2 linked regions of the Homo sapiens genome follow. Each later gene encodes a partner of the first gene's protein in a complex. Each region holds a gene or a part of one and is shown on either strand. Other genes may lie near its edges.

Region 1 (7,019 bases):
CCGAATACACCACTGGATCTTTGAGATACCTGCTTTCTCTTTTTACAAATACAGGAAAACACCAATCTACAACCCATCAGAAATAATGAAGGAATGAATGAATGGATTGTTCATTTTATGTTATGTAGCCCACAAAGAGTGAAGAAGGATACCTCAAGTAGGATTTTGAAGCTATGAGTTGGTCTTAACAAGTTACACTTAAACACGCCCTGTGGTAAACTACAAATTGATTTTTGACAAGATAATTACAGCTGGCAAATGCTAAACAGAACCAGACTTCACAGGTGTACGGTCAAATGTCAAGTATGGCAAGCAAATGCTTTAAAGTTGGTACAGAACTGGGCAATGCCATGGCCTCTAAATGCCATTTTCATCTTTCCTCAACTCTGAAACAGGAGCACGAGTAAGGCCAGCTCCCCAGGTATATGGGCTAAGACTGAAAACAAGCTTGTTACTGAAGAACAAAGTGAAACTGAGACGGTGTCTTAAAATTAACAGTCAAGGTTCCTCTCAGATTTTCTTTTCTATGCCCTTTTGGTGATAGTTTTGAGGTAGTAAAATCTGGTAGAGAATCAGTGTATAGCACAGTATAAAATGCACTAGCCAGGAACAGAAAGATTAGTGCTGGTTCTGCCACTAATTTTCAGTGTGACCTTGGGCACTCAGCAAATCTCAGGTGCCCGATTTCCTCATCTGTCAAATGAAAGTACTAAAGTGCCATGCTAGATCACAAGTGGCAAACTCGTTGCTCACAGCCTGGTTCTGTTTGGCCTGCAGTCTCATGGTGACCTTCAGCAAGGCCGAGCACCTGGGGCTCAAGGCAGACACGCCACAGTGCACCCAGCCACTTCCCTCATCCCCGTTGCCTGCCTCATTAGGCATCTGCACTTGTGAGCTCAAGGCTGACACCTTGAAAACTGGTATTCTTCTAAGAGCAAAGGAAAAAAATCTCTGGAACATGAAAGGGCACAATGAGAGGAGCAGCACTCTAACAGCAGACTCCCCGTGGGGCCACAGGCTGGACAGGACCACCCCTTCCCAGTTACTCCTTTCTCTTCCTTGTATCTCTGCCAGCCCCAATTCCCTACCCTCAGTTTTGAACTTCAAAGACAGTGACCACATCCAATTCAATGGCACTCTCCCTCCCTTTAACTAATACAGAAGAGATGAACATACTTCCATTAAAATATGATAAATACTTGGTTAAAAAAAAAAAGCTTCATGTGTGTCTCGTTTCCTCCATTTAAAGACTTCCAGAGGGAAAGTATATGATATGGCTACTATTCCTACACCTACTACAGAGTGCTGCATAGACCTCATCGAATCTCCCCAACTAGCCTATGACCTTGATCATCTAGTTTGTATTTTATAGATTAAGAAACAAACTCAAAAGTTACCAACACACCCAAGGTAAAACCGCAAGCAGCAGCACCAGGATGCAAACCCCAATCTCCAAAGCCATTTTTTTTTGTACTCACCCCATGTGAGTGACAAGTGGCACAAAAAAGAGGTTGTTGCCAAAAGAAGGTTGAAGAAATCTCTATTTTTCAATCTCATCTGAATATCTCCTTCTTCTAAAACCCAAACCCATTATTAACAGTGTGAGGTCCTCAAGAGTGGAAATGCATATGAACCATGCATTTGCATCTCTAAAATAAGCAGTATTTCTGCCTGTCACCCAGGTAAGTTGCCTAAACTTTGGGACCCTGCAGCAAACCATTAAGCAGAAGTCACCAAATTCCTTCATACACATTGGAAGGGAGTGGACAAACTTATAAGGTAATACCACAGTGCTGAGCACTTCTCATATTTCCTGGGAGGAAAGCAATACAATATCACCAAAAAAAATGAAAGACATATGCTTCTAGCAATATGGCACACTGGGTCCACTGAAAACCTCTCCTCTTACAAAACACCTAGAATTGAATAAATAATAACATTCAGAGCAGTAAACTATTTGCCTTGAAAGTTCAGAGACTGTAGATACAGGAAAGCTCAGCAAGGTATAGCACTTAAGATAGAAACCCCTGAATAAAACCGGGACTGGGCACGGTGGCTCAAGCCTGCAATCCCAGCACTTTGGGAGGCCGAGGCAGGTGGATTGCTTGAGCCCAGGAGTTCAAGACCAGCCTGGGCAAAATGGCGATACCCCATCTCTACGAAAACTACAAAAATTAGCCAAAGCGTGGTGGTGTGCACCTGTAGTCCCAGCTACTCAGGAGGCTGAGGTGGGAGGACCACCTGAACCCAAGAGGTAGAGACTGCAGTGAGCCGAGATCACTGCACTCCAGCCTGGGTAACAGACCACTGCACTCCAGCCTGGGCGACAGACTGAAACTGTCTCAAAAAACAAACAAACAAACAAAAACATTACAATTAAAAAAAAAACATAAAAGAGGACTCTTGAAGGGCCACACATGAGTAAAAAAGGTGGGCCATAACAAAATACATCTGGGGGCCAGGCACAGTGGCTCACGCCTGTAATCCCAGCACTTTGGGAAGCCAAGGCAGGTGGATCACCTAAAGTCAGGAGTTCGAGACCAGCCTGACCAACATGATGAAACCCCATCTCCACTAAAAATACAAAAATTAGCCAGGCACCTGTAATCCCAGCTACCCAGGAGGCTGAGGCAGGAGAATCGTTTGAACCTGGGAGGCAGAGATTGCAGTGAGCCAAGATCACGCCACTGTACTCCACCCTGGGCAAGAGAGCGAGACTTCATCTCAAAAAAAAAAAAAAAAGACATTATAACTTGTAACAATTTATGCAGTGTGTAATCTTTGATTGCATTTTGATATTCTGGTGTTTTTTAAAAAGCCAAAAACTGAAACAACTTGGAAAGATGTTTTCTGATTTCTATCACCTATATTTTCTTTTCATTAAAACAATTTAACTTCGTTGTCTTTGAAAGCACATTTGTTAACTGCTCATGGAATCATATGATGAGCTGCCAGGCTCCCTCATCTTTGTGATTTCTCTACCACAGTGGATATGGTTACCTACTCCTTTCTTTAAAGGTTCTCCTTTCTTGGTTCCTGAGACACCATTCTCTCCCTGGCTCTGCTGCTCATTTTTTAAAAATTAATTAATTTAATTTTTAATTGACAAAAATTGGGGGAATATAATAGCATTAGCAAGGTGGGTCTGATGATGGCACCGTGGTCATGTAGGAAGACATCCTTACAACTTACTGTCAAGTGGTTCAGAAATAAACTAGAGAAAAAGCAAATGTCACAAAATATTTATAACTGGCTATCTAGGTATAGGGTATAGAGGGGCTCATCACACTATTCTTTCAAGTTTTTTGTAGGTTCCAAACTTTTCAAAATGAAAAGGAAAAAAATATTCAATAGATTGGATTAATCAGTCACTTAATCATAGCTTAAGAGACAATTAGACTGGAACAAAGATCTAAAAGAAATTACCCATAATTTAGCAGAGTCAAAAAGATAACAAATATGAGAGGCTAAAAGACAAAGAGGACAAAACGAGAAGCTCTAGCCCAGGGTTTCTCAGCTTGACTCCATGACGTTTGTGGCCAGATAATTCCTTATTATGGAAACTGCTCTGTGCACTACAGGATGTTTAGTAGCATCCCTGGCCTCCACCCACTAGATGCCAGTAGCACCCCCAACCAAGTCGTGAGAACCAAAAATGTCTCCAGACGTTGTCAAAGTCCCCTGCAAGGGCAAAACTGCCCCAGGTTGAAAACCACTGCAATCTTAACCTCATCTCAGTGGAGTTCCAGAAGGAAAGAACAAAGAGAATGGGGAAAGGCAATAGCTGAAGAGATTAACGCTGACAGTTTTTTTGTTTTTTTTTTTTTTGAGACGTAGTCTTGCTCTGTCACCCAGGCTAGAGTGCAATGGCATGATCTTGGCTCACTGATACCTCTGCCTCCCAGGTTCAAGCGATTCTCCTAAGGCTGACAATTTTCCAGAATTGAGCAGAGACATAATACTCAGATTCAAGAAGCACAATTAGCATTAAGCATGATAAACAAAAATTAATCCACTCTGACATATAATAGTGAAACACCAAACCCAAAAATATCTCAAAAACATGCAGAAAGAAGACTCAAAACCCTCAAAATTAGACTTCTCAAAAACAACAGAAGCCAAAGGAGCAAATAACATTGAGAGAGAAGTACTGTGAAACAGTACTGAAGAAAATATCTGTCAACTGAATTATATAGCCAACATAGCTCTTTTTCAAAACAAGGGCAACATAATGAATGCAAACGTGAGAGACTTTCCCACCAACAAACTTCTAGAAGAAATTTCTAAATTATTTACTTTAGGAAGAAGAAAAATGGAGGGAAAGAGAAGGTCTAAGATATAAGGAATAGCAAGCAAATAAATGGTAAATGCACTGGACAAGCTAATGTTGCCTGGAGAGAGGTAACTGAAGCTCACATCTGTATGGCACTTTACAGTTTAAAAAACTGTTCACAATTTGCTTTTATATAGGAAGAGAAAAAACTGTTCACAAATATAGCACTTCTTCCTCTTGTAAGATACCAATATAAGATACACAATCAGTAATCATTTCAAAATTATAATGCAAGTCATTATCTTACAATCGATCAGTTTAATAATTGCTTGAAATAGGTAGAGTATGCTTTTGCTTAGAAAAGTTAAGGGACCTGCCTCAGGTCTCATAGCAAGTCAATACTAGAGCTGGAATTTAAAGCCCATTTCTTTTCACACACAACCCCAAGCTCCTACTTGCCCACATCAAGCGGCCCTTTTGAAGAATAAGCAAGCTCAAATTGGGAACTCTGGTGAGTTTCAAGTATCTGGCCAGTCCCCTCACGAATCCCAAGAAGCCACACGGTGTCCTCTGCCTGAAAGGCCCTTATCTTCCCTGCAAAGCCAAATCCTCTCCCAGCTCTGAAGGGAAAATGTCAAGTCTCAACCCTTCCAGCTGTACCAGCCCACAGTGCTGCCTCCTTAAATTCCAGCTGCATTTAATATTAGTCAATACCTCAAAGCTGAGCACTCATACTGAGTCCTCCTGTGCTGTCATGATTTCCTTTCTTTCTGCCCTGGAGAGACTGTAAGCCCCTTGAAGATAAAAATCATGTCTCTAATTCTTGTTTTCCTTTTTTTCATCTCCCACACAGCCACAATAGCGATGCGTAAAGCTAGCATTTGGAAGAATGCTTGACTCATTTTTTTGTCCCCTCAAGTAAGATGTCACTCAGAAGATCTTTATGAAGCCCTAGGCCAACAGAAATGTATTTCCACAGCAAAGGAGACTTGAAAGAGAAAAAGGACAAATTCTAGAGACAATGAGACCCCTTCAAGGACTTCATTCTTTCTTCTCTGGAGGTAGGCCAGGATAATTTGAATTTTAGAAGCAGGGATTTTAGATACCCAATTGTATTATTGCATATTAATTTTAAAAACATACATATAACCCATTTAGCTAAACAAAGACTAGTTAAGACATGAATTCAATTTGGCTTAGACACTAGGATCATTCTCCTGGGTAGATTTAAAAAATGAGAGAAAATGAGTACCTTGCCAGTTCCAGGAGGTCCTGCCAACAAGACAGCTCTTCCAGCCATTTTCTTGCTTTTGATTAATTCTACTATGACGCCACATGCCTACACACCACAATGGAAAGAAATAATAAATCAATATTAAAATGTTTCACAAGGGGAAAAATCTCAGTCCCTGGCCTACACAAGTCACACACTCATCCAACTAACACTGAGTGCCAGTGCACTGCAGTCACTGTTCTAGGTGCCGAGGGTAACGAAGGCAAGGCAGAAAAGCCTTGTACTTGTGGAGCTCATGTTTTAGGGAGGGATACAAACATACAAACATTGCACACATAATCTTCATCACTACTATGAAGAAAAAGGGATGATGAGAGAGAACGAGTGGCTAGAAAGTGATCCTGGAGTGTCTTTCTGATGACATTTAATTTGATATGTGAACCTCTGGGAGGAGCAGGAGTCAGCGTTCCAGGCAAAGAAAACAGCGAATTCAGAAAATCCAAAGCAGAAACAAGCTTGGCATATCCAAGGGACAGAAAGGTTGCAGTGACCAAAGTATAGCGAAAAAGACCAGGAAGATGAGGTTGAAGAGGTAGACAGCGGCCAGAACGCAGAACAGGAACTTACAGTGTGTGGTAAAGTTTGGATTTTATTCTACATAAATAATACAAAGCCACTGAAAAGGTCTTGAAGACTATGTGTCATGCTATGATTTGTTTTTAAAAGATGGTGCTAGCTACTACTGTGTGAAGAATGCACAGTATGAGTACAAGTGGGAACACTGATTTTTGGCCCAGGGTACAGGGATAGACGCCAGGGGCCCAAATACCTCTTGAAGTTGGGAACGAAACTGTGTTTATGTTCATATATACATTTTTTCCAGAGAAAGGATCCATAGCTTTCATCAAATTCCCAGAGTAACCTATTAAGGGGTAAGAATCAATGACATAGAGTACTAGCTGGCCATCAGTGAACACTGTAAATACTGAATGTGAAGTTAAACCTATGGCACTATTAGATCCATTGAATATGTTTTGAATCCTCAAGGTTAAATTACTTTATCATCTGTTAGTATATTTTAAATACATTATAAATCTCTGAATTTTATTAACCATTTGCAGTACACATGTGTGTATATATACACACACATATTCCATAAATGGGCTATGGAACTTCATATATTTTAGAATATTTGACTATAAGGGGGGAACACTGAGAAAGTTACACTAGCTGAGCATCTATATCTCAGGATTACATAATATAAGGTTTGCTACACTGATTTAATAACTGAATACGTGACTATCTAAAAGGTGCTCTTCTCTCTGGGCAGTGACCACACTGTGCCAGAGTCTTGTGAATACATCTTATCTCTTCTACCTCTATTCCTCATGGACTGTGAAGTACCTTGGTCCCACACTTATGGCAGCCCCTCAAAAAATATGTAAGGACTACAGGCGCCTGCCACCATGCCTAGCTAATTTCTTGTATTTTTAGTAGAGAAGGGGTTTCACC
Region 2 (7,677 bases), on another chromosome or scaffold:
TAAAAATACAAAAAACTAGCCAGCCTGGTGGCGGGCGCCTGTAGTCCCAGCTACTTGGAAGGCTGAGGCAGGAGAATGGCGTGAACCCGGGAGGCAGAGCTTGCAGTGAGCCAAGATCACGCCACTGCATTCCAGCCTGGACGACAGAGCGAGACTCCGTCTCAAAAAAAAAAAAAAAAAAAAAAAGATTCACAAGTTAAAAATTATGGCCATAAAAATTAAGTTTCCAGCCGGGAGCAGTGGCTCACAGCATGTAATCCCAGCACTTTGGAAGGCGGAGGCGGGCGGATCATGAGGTCAGGAGTTTAAGACCAGCCTGGCCAACATGGTAAAACCCCATCTCTACTAAAAAATATAAAAATTAGCTGGGCATGGTGGTGCATGCCTGTAATCCCACCTACTGGGGAGGCTGAGGCAGGAGAATTGCTTGAACCCAGGAGGCGGAGGTTGCAGTGAGCAGAGATTGTGCCACTGCACTCCAGCCTGGGCGACAGAGCAAGACTCTGTCTCAAAAAAATAAAATAAATTAAGTTCCCATGAAGCCAAAGATCTTCAATCAGCAAGATGCTATAGGGCAGGGATCCCCAACCGCAGGGCTTGTGGTCCGGTACCTGTCTGTGGTCTGTTGGGAACCAAGCCTTCATAGCAAGAGGTGAGCACCAGGGTGGGGAAGGAGGGTGGGGCCGTAAGCATTAACACCTAAATTGCACTTCCTGTCAGATCAGCCATAGCATTAGATTCTCATAGGAGCAGGAACCCTATTTTGAACTGTGCATGCAAGGGATATAGTTTGTGCACTTTTTTTGTGAGAATCTAATACCTGAGAATAGTTTCATTTCAAAACCATCGCCCACACTCATACCCCCAACCACACGTTAAAATTGTCTTCCACGAAACCAGTCCTTGGTGCCAAAAAGGTTGGAGACTGCTGCTGCTACAGGGTACAGAAGTAGCAACTTTTTTTTTTTTTTTTTGAGACCGAGTCTCGCTTTGTCGCCCCAGGCTGGAGTGCAGTGGCGTGATCTCGGCTCACTGCAAGCTCCGCCTCCCAGGCCCACGCCATTCTCCCGCCTCAGCCTCCCAGGTAGCTGGGACTACAGGCGCCTGCCACTACGCCCGGCTAATTTTTGTATTTTTAGTAGAGACAGGGTTTCGCCGTGTTAGCCATGATGCTCTGGATCTCCTAACCTCGTGATCCACCCACCTGGGCCTCTTGCTGCTTGCCATGAGCTTACAATCTGGTTTGGAAGACAAACTAGAGCCATTATTAATTATACACACATGTATGCATACAAATGTGTCTGTATGTGTATACGAGATGACACTGGGATAATACTGTAAAAAAATGTTTTACACCTGCTTATTTCACTTATAATACTGTCAGCATTTTCTCTACATGTTTAAATGTTCTTTGAAGACATAATTTTAAGAAGCTTGAATTTGTTATCAGTCTCAGGTTGTATTTTGGTGTATTTAGCCAATATGCTATTCCTGATTATTTAGCTTCCTTCCCATTTTTTGGCTGCCTGTATACGATGACTATGAATAATACAAAGCACTTCTAATTAATTCTCTAGGTAATAACAGAATTGCTGTGTCATGGCCCGGTGCGGTGGCTCACACCTGTAATCCCAGCACTTTAGGAGGCTGAAGCAGGCAGATCACGAGGTCAGGAATTCCAGACCAGCATGGCCAAAATGGTGAAACCCCCGTCTCTACTAAAAATACAAAACTTAGCCAGGCGTGGTGGTGCGCAACTGTAGTCCCAGCTACTTGGGAGGCTGAGGCATGAGAATGGCTTGAACCCGGGAGGCAGAGGTTGCAGCGAGCCGAGATCGTGCCACTGCACTCCAGCCTGGACAAGAGAGCCAGACTCCCTCTCCAAAAAAAAAAAAAAAAATTGCTTTGTCAGCTGGGTGTAGGGCTCACGCCCCTAATACCAGCACTTTGGGAGGCCAACGCGGGTAGACTGCTTGAGGCCAGGGGCTCGAGACCGGCCTGGCCAACATGATGAAACCCCGTCTCTAACAAAAATACAAAAAATTCGCTGGGAGTGGTGGTGCACGCCTATAATCCCAGCTACTCTGGAGGCTGAGGCGGGAGAATCACTTGAATTCAGGCTGCAGTGAGCTGAGATCGCACCACGGCACTCCAGCCTCGGTGACAATGATAATGATACACATTGCCAAAACGTTTTCCAGAAAGATTGTAACAATTTACATTCCTACTCAGTTTGATTTCCCTCTTTCATTTCTGTTTCAAAAGAAATGAAAAAGAAGGAAAGGAGGGAGGAAGGAAAGAATTTTTTTTAATGCTCTGTTAATTTGATAAAGGAAAGGCGTGTCTTTAGGTTTGCTTATTTATTCAAACATATATTTTATGACTATACATGTTATGAATGCCATTGTATTAACAGTACTTCTGTTTAATTGACCTTACCAACTAGGTCGGCCAGTAGGCCAAAGTCTTCAAAGCCTCTAGATCCTAAGACCGTGATTTTTAGACTTTTGGAGGGTCATAGAACCCTTTGAGAATCTAATGAAACCTATAATCTTGTACCCAGGAAAATCCGCATACACCCAAACACCGTGCCCATAGTTTCCAAAGGCTGATGAACTTTACGGACCCTTCTGTCAGGAACGCATCTCTATAAGCCTATTTTCTTTGGCTATTTCCTGTTACGAAATAAAACATATATCCCACTTCCGGGGCCTCGCAGCCCAAAACTAAAACCAAAATCAATTTCAATTCAAAGCATCACAATCACCCACCCAGCTCCAACCAGGGAATCCCTCTGGCTAAGTCAGGGCCGCGCGGGGGTGTCTGCAGTTCATTGATGTCCGGAGATGAAACGTAGCACATGAAACCACTAGGCGTATATATCTTGTCCCTCGGAGAAAGAAAGTACTTACGACACATTTTCATGGCTGTAACCGATTTTGGCGTTGTAAGCTCCATTATCCAGCACTAAGGTCGTCATCTCACCACCAACCACACCGCAGCCGTAGTTGTTTTCCCTTTCCGACCCCTCTGCTCGAGCTTTTTCCGGTACTCTATGGTTTGTTGGGCGGAGCGTTAGGACGCGCCTCTGGTCACCTTAGCAACGGAGGACGCCGGAAGTCGGAGATGCTAAGCAGCACCGAATGTTAGGGGCTGTGCTTCCAAACTTAACCTGTTTATGTGGTGGCGAGATTTGACTACTATGTGCTTTCTCGCTCATTTCGTATTTGTTTTTAACTACGCAGATTAATTCGCGCAAGTTTTTTCTAATCCTGTAGAGAACCGGCTGCGTGTGTGTGTGTGTGTGTGTGTGTGTGTGTGTCTTCCAATCGCATTCTTCAGACGGTGACATTCTTTGAAGAAAAAAGTGCAAAACTTGCTCTTGGACTCACATTCATACTCTCCTCTTCCCCAGCCCACTTGCTCTTCAGGACGAAGCTGAGTGAGTCTTTCTCATCCAAAAAAGGCTTTTGGGCCGGACGCGGTGGCTCACGCCTGTAATCCCAGCACTTTAGGAGACCAAGGCAAGCAGATCACTTGAGGTCAGGAGCTTGAGACCAGCCTGACCAACACGGCGAAACCCCGTCTCTATTAAAAATACAAAAAGTAGCCGGGCGAGGTGGCGGGCGCCTGTAATCCCAAGTACTCGGGAGGCTGAGGCGGGAGAATTGCTTGAACCGGGGAGGCGGAGGTTGCAGTGAGCCGAGATGGCTCCACTACACTCCAGCCTGGGCGACAGAGCGAGACTCCGGCAGGGCGGGGACTTGGCAGGTGCGGGAGGCAGGACCTGGCTTCCGGGGCGTCGCGGGGGCAACGGCCAGCGGGCGGGGGCAAGGGCCAGCGGGCTAGGACAACTGCCAACGGGCTTGGAGGGGGGCGTTCTACAAATTCCAGGCCACTTTGAGCGCCTGAGAGAGGAGCGGGGCGGCGGGAAGGGGGCACCGCGGGGGCAGGGAGCGCAGCAGCCGCAGCGCGAAGGCGCGGGGGCCGGGGAACAAACGGTTGGCGCGCAGGCAGCCATACCGGGGCCGGAACCCGGGCAGAGGAGGGCAGCGACGGCGATGGGGAGGCTGCAGAGCCCGGGGCGGGTACCGCGCGGGAACCAGCGCGACTGCGTGGCTACCGCAGCCGTCGGTTCGTGTTGGACGGGCGCCGCTGCTGCCTCTGCTACTTCAAGAACCCCCACGACCCGCTGCCCCTCGGCCACCTGGACATAGCAGAAGCCTGCTTCAGCTACCAGCGCGCCGACGAGGCGGCGGAGCAGCCTGCGCACTTCCAGGTGCGCAGCGCGGGAGCCGCCACGGTGCTTGAGGTGGGAACTCGCGCCCTGCAAGCGCCTGGGCCCTTCTGTCGGCGCTCCTTGCCTCCCCTGGGGGCCTGCCCCATCCACCCTCCTTTCTCCAAGGCCTCCTCGCACCCTGCCAACGTCGGCCTGCCTTTCCCCACTTCTCCACATCCCGTCCTCGTTCCTATCTCCTCCCCTCCACCTGGGCTTAGGCCCGGGTGGCTGGGGCTACCCAGCCCAGTCTCCTTCCTCAGACACTTTGACCCATTATCTCCCTCTGCTCCTTCCCTCTGACCCCTCTCTAGTGTCTTCTCACCCCCAGCATCCCGTGGATGTCCGGTGCAGCCCTCCCAAGCATTCATAACCGTAGGCTTCTGCCCCAGGGGCCTCCTTTAGAACTCTGCTAGGACCTTGGTACATCAGTTAACCGCTCTGCCCTTCAGCGTCCTCTAAAATGAGATAGCAGTAGTATCTATATCATGGGGTGTTGAGATTAAACTAATTATACTCTAAACTGCTCAGTAAATGTTAGTACATTTATTTTATTTTTATTTATTTGTTCTTTTTGCCATAGGATCTCGCTCTGTTGTGCAGACTGAAGTGCAGTGGTGTGATTTCAGCTAACTGCAGCCTCATGCCTGGGCTCAAGTGATCCTCCCACCTGAGCCTCCCACCTGAGCCTCCCAAGTATCCGGGACCACAGGTGCAGGCCCACGCCTGGCTAATTTAAAAAATGGTTTTTGTGTGTGTGTGTGTGTGTGTGTGTGTGTGTGTGTGTGTGTGTGTGTGTAGATGGGGGTCTCGCTATGTTGCTCAGGCTAGTCTCGAACTCCTGGGCTCAAACCATCCTCCCCACCCATCTTCCTGGGATTCCAGACGTGAGCCACAGTGCATTTAGCACTATAGACAAAAAGAGTCAGAAATGGCAGGGCCCTTAGAGATATTCCACTACATTTCCTCCGAGAGTGGGCAGGGATGCTCCAGCTAAGGTCACACAGCCAGTAAGTGGCAGACCCTCTTTTCTTGCTCCTTGTTTTGTCCAGGAGAGGTGGGAGGGGGTCACTTCAGCCAGTTAGGCCTTGCTCTTTGAGGCTCTTTTAATCCTCCAGCGAAGAGACATAATGGGAAAAATAATGCAGAAGCAGGAGAGTAGAGTGAGGAGTCCTGGTGCTGAGAGGCCTCCCCTTTCCTTGGGAGTCCTTAGCGGGCTAGACTCTGTCACCTCCGAGGGGTCCACCTGCTTCGAGCACATAGAGGGATCTGGGCCCAGGCCTGGAGCCCAGTATCCTTTCTCCAGGCTGTGCTCCCTGCCTGGCTCCTGTGAACCTCCACCTTCTCTCTCATTCCTCTTCCGCGCTGCAGGCTCGGCTTTCTCCAGGGCAGCAGGGTTGGGCTGGGATGTATGAAAGCACTCTCAAAGCTGGCCACGCGGAGAGCAGAGTAGGCAGGCTCTTGGCCTTATGAGCACAGGACTGTTCCTCAGACCCCCAGAGCTGCTAACAGCTGCAGCTGCCCCCGGAGATGTTCTCAGAGCTTTGTCGACTCAGCTTTTGCCAATTCAAGCAGGATCTGATTCCCATGTTCTCTCGGGCTCCTCTGTCCTGTCTGTAAGTGGGTGCAGACAGCCTGTTTCCCCGAAGGAAGCCAGCCAGGGTTGCAGTCCTACTCAGGCTTACTTTGCGCCTGTATAAACATGGGAATGACCCCGGTGGAAGACCTTTGCCAAAGGTAGAGGCTCTTCCTCAGTGTATACATGGACTGTCCCCATGTCAGGTGAATTTCCTGTAGGATATTTGTTAACAAAGAAAATAGAGCGTCATGTTTCAGATTTTTCTCAGATGACTGTAAAGCCCTATATGGGTTACAGGGCATATTGTCAGGAGCATGGCTTTAGACTTGGATGGGCTTGAACTTGAAGCAGGATCCTGCTGCTCACATGTACTGGACAAGTTATACCACGTCCCAGTTCCTCTTTGGTCTTCTCATTCCTCATCTTCAATGGGAATCTTACCTTCCTCATTAGTGGCTGTGAGGATTCTGGAGAATGTTATGGAAATGGCTGGCACATTTTCCATAGTGGTACGGAAAGTAGTAGGCACTACATGGCATATGAAACATCAAGCAGTGTTTTTGGCCAACTATGTAGTATATTCATATAATGGCATATTATGTGGTAGTAAACAAAGGAACTAGAGCTATAAGTGTCAATGTGGATTACTCTCACAAACATAAAATTGAGCAAGAAATAAGTTACAGACTGATTCTGTTCAGAATGATACCATTTATAGAAAGGTTAAGAAGATCATGTAAAATAGTGCTACAGATCACAAGGATATATACTGTGTCAGGAGGGGAAGAGATGCAAGGGGGTGATGAGCTCTGGTTTCTAGGTGGTGGTTGCCTCTGATGGGAAGAGGGGGGATGTGATTGGGAATGGCTGCCTTGGGGCTGGTGCCTTGTGGCTTCCACTGTTGTTTTGCAGTGTTTTATTTCTTGGACTGGGTGGTGGGTGCATCAGTGTTTGTTGTGTTATGCCATCCATCTTTTTTTTTTTTTTTTTTTTTGAGACAAGAGTTTTGCTCCTGTTGCCTAGACTGGAGCGCAATGGCGCGCTATCAGCTCACTGCAACCTCCGCCTCCTGGGTTCAAGTGATTCTCCTGCCTCAACCTCCCAAGTAAGTGGGATTACAGGCATGCGCCATCACGCCTGGCTAATGTTGTATCTTTAGTAGACACGGGGTTTCACCATGGTGATCAGGCTGGTCTCAAACTCCTGACCTCTGGTGATCCACCCGCCTCGGCCTCCCAAAGTGCTCAGATTACAGGCACGAGCCACTGTGCCTGGCCGCTATCCATCTTGTTGTAGGTTCAGAGTATTTCTTTTTTTTTTAAGAAAAGGAAATATTTTCCTTTGGGTTACTGACAATGGAGGAATATTTTGACATGTAAAATTAAATTGGTCACAGAGTAAGATAATACCTGAGGCCTCGAGTGTTGGCTATTTACAACAATGGAAATGGAAACAGGCAAGGCTTTCCAAAAGAAGGGATCAGGGTTTTAGAGTAGGGGTGTTTTTTGTTTATTTGTTTGTTTTGAGACATTGTTTCACTCTTGTTGCCCAGGCTGGAGTGCAATGGTGTGATCTCAGCTCACCACAACCTCCGCCTCCCAGGTTCAAGCAATTCTGTTGCCTCAGCCTCCCGAGTAGCTGGGATTACAGGTGTACGCCACCACGCCCAGTTAATTTTTGTATTTTTAGTAGAGACGGGGTTTCTCCATGTTGGTCAGGCTGGTCTCGAACTCCCAACCTCAGGTGATCCACCTGTCTTGGCCTCCCAAAGTGCTGAGATTACAGGCGTGAGCCACTGTGCCCAGCCAGGGGTGTGTTTTAA

What was found. Proteins that work in one complex are often made in the same cells at the same time.
Region 2: the proteins of RUVBL1 (region 1) and ACTR6 are in contact, whole or in part, in a cryo-EM structure (PDB 6IGM), measured with the Homo sapiens proteins. Residues at the interface, in NP_003698.1 of Homo sapiens: Lys162, Thr163, Ala164, Lys165, Gly166, Thr167, Tyr209; in NP_071941.1 of Homo sapiens: Tyr217, Tyr300, Arg338, Cys339, Leu340, Thr341, Pro342, Thr343.

Annotation. Positions count from the first base shown.
Region 1 is NC_000003.12:128,113,803-128,120,821, forward strand, and holds part of RUVBL1 (ruvB-like 1), read right to left. Parts: intron 5,613-7,019; coding exon 5,526-5,612; intron 1-5,525. UniProt on the Homo sapiens protein: Possesses single-stranded DNA-stimulated ATPase and ATP-dependent DNA helicase (3' to 5') activity; hexamerization is thought to be critical for ATP hydrolysis and adjacent subunits in the ring-like structure contribute to the ATPase activity.
Region 2 is NC_000012.12:100,196,155-100,203,831, reverse strand, and holds the start of ACTR6 (actin-related protein 6), read right to left. Parts: upstream 3,018-7,677; 5' UTR 2,981-3,017; coding exon 2,913-2,980; exon of another isoform or gene 2,772-2,912; intron 1-2,771. UniProt on the Homo sapiens protein: Required for formation and/or maintenance of proper nucleolar structure and function. Plays a dual role in the regulation of ribosomal DNA (rDNA) transcription.